Linked DNA regions of Homo sapiens. The protein of the gene in region 2 purifies or fractionates together with the protein of the main gene of each other region. This does not show direct contact. Each region holds a gene or a part of one and is shown on either strand. Other genes may lie near its edges. The genes, in order: PSMA8 and SYCP1.

The links.
Region 1: the proteins of SYCP1 (region 2) and PSMA8 purify together in Homo sapiens (affinity purification with western blotting, with the first as the bait; one study listed by BioGRID). This does not show direct contact.

The regions. Positions count from the first base shown.
Region 1 is NC_000018.10:26,189,139-26,192,969, forward strand, and holds part of PSMA8 (proteasome subunit alpha-type 8), read left to right. Parts: intron 1-3,180; coding exon 3,181-3,273; 3' UTR 3,274-3,831. UniProt on the Homo sapiens protein: Component of the spermatoproteasome, a proteasome specifically found in testis that promotes acetylation-dependent degradation of histones, thereby participating actively to the exchange of histones during spermatogenesis.
Region 2 is NC_000001.11:114,906,579-114,910,409, reverse strand, and holds part of SYCP1 (synaptonemal complex protein 1), read right to left. Parts: intron 14-3,831; coding exon 1-13. UniProt on the Homo sapiens protein: Major component of the transverse filaments of synaptonemal complexes, formed between homologous chromosomes during meiotic prophase. Required for normal assembly of the central element of the synaptonemal complexes.

The DNA.
Region 1 (3,831 bases), on a different chromosome or scaffold from region 2:
ATAAGAGAAAAAACAATAATCTGATCAAAAAATGGGTGAAGGATTTGAATTTGTATGTCTTCTTTTCTCAAAAGAAGACATACAAATGGCAAACAGGCATATAAAAAGGTGCTTGGGCTGAGCTCTTGCTTGTAATCCCAGCACTTTGGGAGGCCAAGGCGGGAGGATCACTTGAGCCTAGGAGTTTCAGACCAGCCTGGACAACACAGTGAGACCTTGTCTCTACAAATATAATAATTTAAAAATTAGCCTGATGTGGTGGTGTGCTCCTGTGGTCCCAGCTACTTGGGAAGCTGAGGTGGGAGGATCACTTGAACCTGGGAGGTCAAGGCTGCAGTGAGCCATGATTGTGCCACTGTACTCCATCCTGGGCAACAGAGCAAGACCCCATCTCCAAAAAAAAGGTGATCAACATCATTGATCATCAGAGAAATGCAAATCAAAACTACAATAAAATATCATCTCACCCCAGTTAAAATGGCTTATATCTAATAGACAAGCTACAGCAAATGCTGGTGAGGATATGGAGAAAAGGGAACCCTCATACACTGTTGGTGGGAATGTAAATTAGTACAACCACCATGAAGAATAGTTTGGAGATTCCTCAAAAAACATAAAATAAAAGTACATATGGTCCAGCAATCCCACTACTGGGTGTATACCCAAAAGAAAGGAAATCAGTATATTGAAGAAATAGCTGCACTCCCATGTTAATTGCAGAACTGTTCACAATAGCCAAGATTTGGAAGCAACCTTAGGGTCCATCAACAGATGAATGTACGAAGACAATGTGATACTTACACACAATGAAGTACTGTTCTGCCCCCAAAAAAATAATGAGATACTGTCATTTGTAATAACATGGATGGAACTGGAGATCATTATGTTAAATAAGGCAGGCATGGAAAGACAGACATTGCATGTTTTTACTCATTTGTGGAATCTAAAAATCAAAACAATTGAACTCATGGAGATACAGAGTAGAAGGATGGTTACTAGAGGCTGGGAAGGGTAGTGGGGGGCAGGGGCAGGTGGGGATGGTTAATAGGTACAAAAAAATAGAATTTATAAGACCTAGTATTTGATAACACAACAGGGTAACTATAGTCAATAACAATTTAATTGTACATTTTAAGATAACTAAAAGAGTATAATTGGATTTTTTGTAACACAAAGGATAAATGCTTGAGGGGATGGATACCCCATTCTCCATGATGTGGTTATTATGCATCACATGCCTGTATCAAAATATCTCATGTACCCCATAATATATATACCTACTATGTACTCATAAAAATTAAAAATAATTTTTTGAAAAGGCTTCTTGAGGCTGGGCGCAGTGGCTCATGCCTGTAATCCCAGCATTTTGGGAGGCCGAGACAGGCAAATCGATTGAGCCCAGGAGTTTGAGACCAGCCTGGGCAACATGGCGAAACCCCGTCTCTACAAAAAATACAAAAGTTAGCTGGGCATGGTGGTTCACATCTGTAGCCCCAGCTACTCCGGTTGCTGAGGCGGTAGGATGGCTTGAGCCCAGGAGGCAGAGGTTGCAGTGAGCTGTGATCATGCCGCTGTGCTTCAGCTGTAGGCAGCAGAGCAAGACCCGGTCTCAAAAAGGAAAAAGAAAGTGAAAGACACTTTTTCAAAGGAGGAAATTATTTCTTCCCCAAGTAATACCACATCACTTTATTCAGGTTTGTATTGTAATGATCTATTTATATGCCAGTTTTTTTCCACTAAACTGTGGACTCCTTAATAGCAGGTAAGAATTATATTCTTCCACTTTCAGAGCCCATGGAACTCCTAGTAATTGCTTGATGGGTAAATTCATTTCATAAAACGTTCAAATAATATATTTTATGTAGATTATTGACAAATACAGATTTTGTGACACACATCTTTATAGGTGAAATGGAAAGAGTTCTGGAGTTGAAATAAGAATCAGAGACCTAATCTTTAATCCTTCTTTAATCTTTGGCCAAATATAATTTAGCTTTGTGAATCTATGTTTTCTTATATGTAAATTCTAGTGATGGACTAATAGCTAAAATCCTTTACATCTCTAATATCTTTGAAAATTTGCCTTTCCATAAAGTTGATCATTCATTTATCAATTTAATAGATACCTCTTTTCAGTATTAAGATCATTATATTTAGATTTTTGTATATAAATGTATTAACTTCACTGAAGTTAATAATTGCTGTCTTGGCCAGGCACGGTGGCTCAGGCCTGTAATCCCAGCACTTTGGGAGGCTGAGGCGGGCAGATCACTTGAGGTCAGGAGTTCAAGACCAGCCTGGCCAACATGGCAAAACCCTGTCTGTACTGAAAATGCAAATCTCTCTACTAAAAATAACAAAAATCAGTCAGGCGTGGTAGCACACACCTGTAGTCCCAGCTACTGAGGAGACTGAGGTGGGAGAATCGCTTGAACCCGGCAGCAGAGGTTGCAATCACATCACTGCAGTCCAGCCTGGGCGACAGGGTGAGACCCTGTCTGAAAAAAAAAGAAAAAGAAAATGGCAGCCTGGTCTCGAACCCCTGACCTCAACTGATCCACCCACCTCGGCCTCCCAAAGTGCTGGGATTACAGGCCTGAGTCACCAGGTTTGGCCAATAATTGCTGTCTTATAGCCGCAAGCATGTAACCTTGGATCTACTTGTGAACAGTACAACAGAAAATCAAACTACACTGCAAATTCTTAGAAAAATAAAACCTTTTTTGCTTTCTACTTAGACATAAAGTAGCATAAATTATCTTTTCCCATTTCATTTCGCTATTCTATAAACTGATCAAATTATTAAACCCTATCAGAGAATCACACAGTAGGGTGCAGTTGGGAGAGTTAAATAATGAGTCTTTGTTCATGAATAAAATTAAGCCTCGCATTAAAATGTTTTTGGAGTTATATGCACATATAGGATATATAACGCAATATCACCTTTTGTCCTGCTTTCTTTTTTAGCACAGTGATAGTAGAAATGTCAGAGATCTGGTTTTGCCCATAATTGTTATTGCTCTTAGACCTCTTGAAATGCTTCATTGTATATTTGAAGTTACAAAATATAAAGTTGTACATAGAAAGTATAAATTTATTAAATATTGGAATTCTTCATATTGTATTTACATATTATTCGTATAACTGACATTTGATCTTTAAATTTTTTTCTCTTTTCAGATGTTTAGTGCAAAAGAAGTTGAATTATATGTAACTGAAATAGAAAAGGAAAAGGAAGAAGCAGAGAAGAAAAAATCAAAGAAATCTGTCTAATTCTTAGGATGACCACTGGGAGGTCTTAATGTTTTGTTTTATTGTACTGCCTGAGGTTGTTTAGTGAAATTTTAGAGGAAAACAGTTATTTTGCAGCATTACATGCAGTACTTGTGTGATGTTTTGAGAATGCCAGATCTGTGGCTGTCTTCATTCTATTACATAGTCAAACATAGGTTTATGTGAAGATTTTCTTTGAAAGGGGATTTCAGTAATTGTTGAGAGCAGTCATAATTCCACATAAGCCTGAGACTCTATAATTTGTCCAGTGTCTTACTTACCTTCATATATGCAAATATAATTTTAAAAAATTTTTTAATTAAAAAAATTTAATAATTTGGTGATGTTTGAATATTGACTGTCAGTTAAGGACATAGCTATTCCAAATAAACTAAATATAATATTGAGCTGCATTTCTCAAAGAATGACAAAAGCATCCTTATACTGATGAGTTCTTAAAATTTTGTCAGAGCCTTCTTCATTTTACAATATTTTGTTATTTTTATTTTACCTTTTTCATTTTACAATATTTCGTTATTTTTATTTTACCTTTTTCAT
Region 2 (3,831 bases):
TTTCCTTTTCTCCCTATTTATAAACATTAACAAATCAGGAATGCCAAACCATACACATAGTGAAAGTAATCAAACTGCCCAAATGGAGCTGTGGAAAGAACTATGAGCTTCCCCCTGGCTAAAATTCTTTAAAAAGAGAAAATTAGTCAATATTAAGTAAATTCAAAGACTAAACATGATGACAGACAATTCAGTAGACACAGCCCTGGAACACAATAATTAATTGTTTAGTTACAGATGATTAATTTCTCATCATTCCTTCTACTATCCAACACAGCATATATTTATGAACTCACTTTTTACTTTGTCTTCCCAAGCATGACATCACAATGATTTTATAAAAGGCCTCACAATAAAAGGTCCTATATTATTAACCATAAAAACTACTAATTGTAGTTAAGGAGTTTGAATTTTATCTATAGACAATGTGGAATCATCATAAATGTTACTGTAACAATATATAATCCTATTTGCGATTTTAAAAGATAACACTAGCAATAGTGCAGAAGAAAGCTTAAGTAGGGCGAACCTAAAAACAAGAAAGCCAGTAATGAGACTACTGTGCCAAAACAAATGCAAGATGAAAAGTGTTTAAATTATATCAAGGACTGTGGAGACAGATTGATAACAATAACCATGGTTTCATGCTTTCAGATGACTTCTGTATGACCAGCCCTCACTAGATGCTTAAAATATATTTTCATTCTTTACACTACTCTATGGAAGTCAGATTTTTATGTCTCCATTTGAAGGATCAAAAAATAGAAGCAGTCTTTTAGCTTTCAGTATGTCACTATAATCTCATGCCCAGAGACCAACTCTCCCACTGAAAACTTCTATAAACTCTGGACAAAATACATAAATACATATAAACGTGTGTGTGTGTGTGTGTGTGTGTGTGTGTGTGTGTGTGTACAGCAAGGGAGAGAGAGGGAAAGAAGGAAGGAGGGAGGGAGGGCGGGGGAGAGAGAGAGAGAGACAATATATAACCTAAGGATTTTAACAAGTAAAAAAAAAATTAACACAAGTGGCTGGAAGAGGAGTGAGTTTGTCAGTTTTGGTAGCTTTGTCCCAATGGTGAAATGTCACTGCTAAGCAGTGTGGTATAGGCAGCTAAAACTACAATAGAAACCCCACCATCTCTCTTGCTAGAGGAACCTGGTAGAACCAGGGAAAGGAGCCCTGGGACCCACAACCAGCTGCCAGAATATAAAGGAGAAATCATACAGAACAAAGAACCACTGAAAGTAATCTCCTGATTCTATGTATGAATACTACACAAATTTAAAAACAACCCATGAAGCATACATTCATATACAGAGTCAAAAGTAGTACACCAAAGGCTCAGAGAATTAAACTAAGATTTGAAGCACCATTTATAGAAGGTGAGATAAAGTTTATTTTTGAATCTAGCAAACTGATAGATAAAACAAAAACATTTACATTATTCAGAAGAATGTAACAGAATCTACATAATATAACCTTCACAATGTCCTGAATATAATCCAAAATTATTCAACATACAAAGAACTGGTAAAATGTCAACATTCTCAAGGGAAAAGGCAACAGATATATGCTAACCCCAGTATAACCAAGATGTGAGAACTTTATCAGATGAGAACTTTAATGCAGCTAATTCAGTTTTGCTCAATCAGGTATAGGAAATACTCTTAAAATGAATAAAAAGATAGAAAATCTAAGGAAAGAAATAGAAAATAAGAACAAATGGAAATTTTAGAGCTGGTAAAAAAAAATTCATTGAATGCTCATGGGAGCACAATGGAGATTACAAGGAAAGAGACAGTGAATCTGACTATCAGAACAACAGAATCGATAGTCTGAAGAATACAGAGAAAAAACATTGAAATAAAATGAATAGCACCTCAGGAACCCGTGGAACAATATAAAAAGATCAAATCAATGTATAATTGTAATCTTAGAAGGAGAAGACAGCAAAAATAGGGCAGAAAAATATTTAAATGGCCAAAACTTCCCATATTTGAAGAAAGTTAAAAATTTACAGATTTATGAAGTGCAGTGAATCTCAAATATAATAATTCAACTTCACTTACATACTGCTGAAAATCAAAGTTAGGGAGAAAATCTTGAAAGCATGTGAGTCTCTCATTAGAAAACATGGAGGATCAAAGACAATAAGACATCATCTTTAAGGTGCTGAAAGAAACAAAACTGTCAACCCACAATCCTATAACAAAAAAAAAAAAAAATCCTTCCAGAATGAAGAGTAAATAAATAATATATTCAAAAAGAAAAACTAAGAAAATTTGTCAGCAGCAAAACTGCACTACAAGAAATACTAAAGGAAGTTCTTTAGGCTGAAGGAGAACAATATTAGAGGTAAACGTGGATCTTCAGGAAAAAATAAAGAATATCACAACTGGTAAATATTGCAATAAATATAAAAGATCATTTTTCTTCAAGTTATTTAAAAAACATATGACTACTAAAGCAAAAATTATAGCACTGTCTTGGAAGATGTAAATGCATGTAGGTGTAATATATATGACAACTCTAGCATAAAGGACAAAGTGGGAAAAGGACATAAATAGGGAGGCCGAGGCGGGTGGATCACGAGGTCAGGAGATCGAGACCATCCTGGCTAACACGGTGAAACCCCATCTCTACTAAAAATACAAAAAATTAGCCAGGCGTCATGGCGGGCGCCTGTAGTCCCAGCTACTCGGGAGGCTGAGGCAGGAGAACGGCATGAACCCAGGAGGCGGAGCTTGCAGTGAGCGGAGATCATGCCACTGCACTCCAGCCTGGGCAACAGAGCAAGACTCCATCTAAAAAAAAAAAAAAAAAAGTTTCAACATTTAACATGAAGTGGTACAATATTAACTCAATATAGACAAGGTAATGGATACATGCTGTAATCCTTAGAACAGCCACAAAAATAAATGCAGAGAAGTATAGATAAAATACCAGTAGATACATTAAAACGGAATGCCAAAAAATATTCAAATAACCCAAAAGAAGGCAGAGAGTTTAAAAGAGGAACAAAACAAAGGAGCAAACGGAAAACAACTTTTAAATGGTGAATCTAATCTAAGCCACATCAACACTTAAACAACAATTTTTAAAGATATCAATGGTCTAAATTCTCCAATTAGCAGTGATTGTCGGAGTGCATAAAGAAAGAAGACCCAATTATATGCAGGCTACATATAAGCACATATGTACAAATATAAAGTCAAATGTAGGTTGTAAGATATATCATGCAAACAACAAGCATAAGAAACATGGAGTGGCTATAATAATATGTTAAAATAGACTTTAAAACAAAAAAGTATTATCAGAAATTGAGGGCATTTAATTATAATCAAAGGGTCAATTCATCAAGAAGATATGGTAGTTAGATATAAATGTGAAGTTTATAGCAGAAGTTCAAAACACACGAAGCAATCACTGATAGAATTAAATAGATAAATAAACAATTCCAAAATCCTACTAGTTTTAACTCTTCTCTCAGTAAATAATAGAATTAGACCCAAAAATTCAATTAAAAACATATATTTGTACAACACCATCAGCCAACTGAGCCTAATTGACAATTACAGAACACTCTACCTAACAATAGCAGAATACATATTATTTTCAGTGCACATGGAACATTCACTAAGATATATCATATCTGATACATAAAACAAACCTTAAGAAATTTTTTACAAAAGTACATTCTCTGACCATAACAAAGTTAAACTAGGAAAGAATAACAAAAAATAACAGGAAATTCTCCAAATACATGGAAATTGAACAATAGACTTCTAAATGGGATCAAAGGAAAACCCTCAAGAGAAATTTAAAACT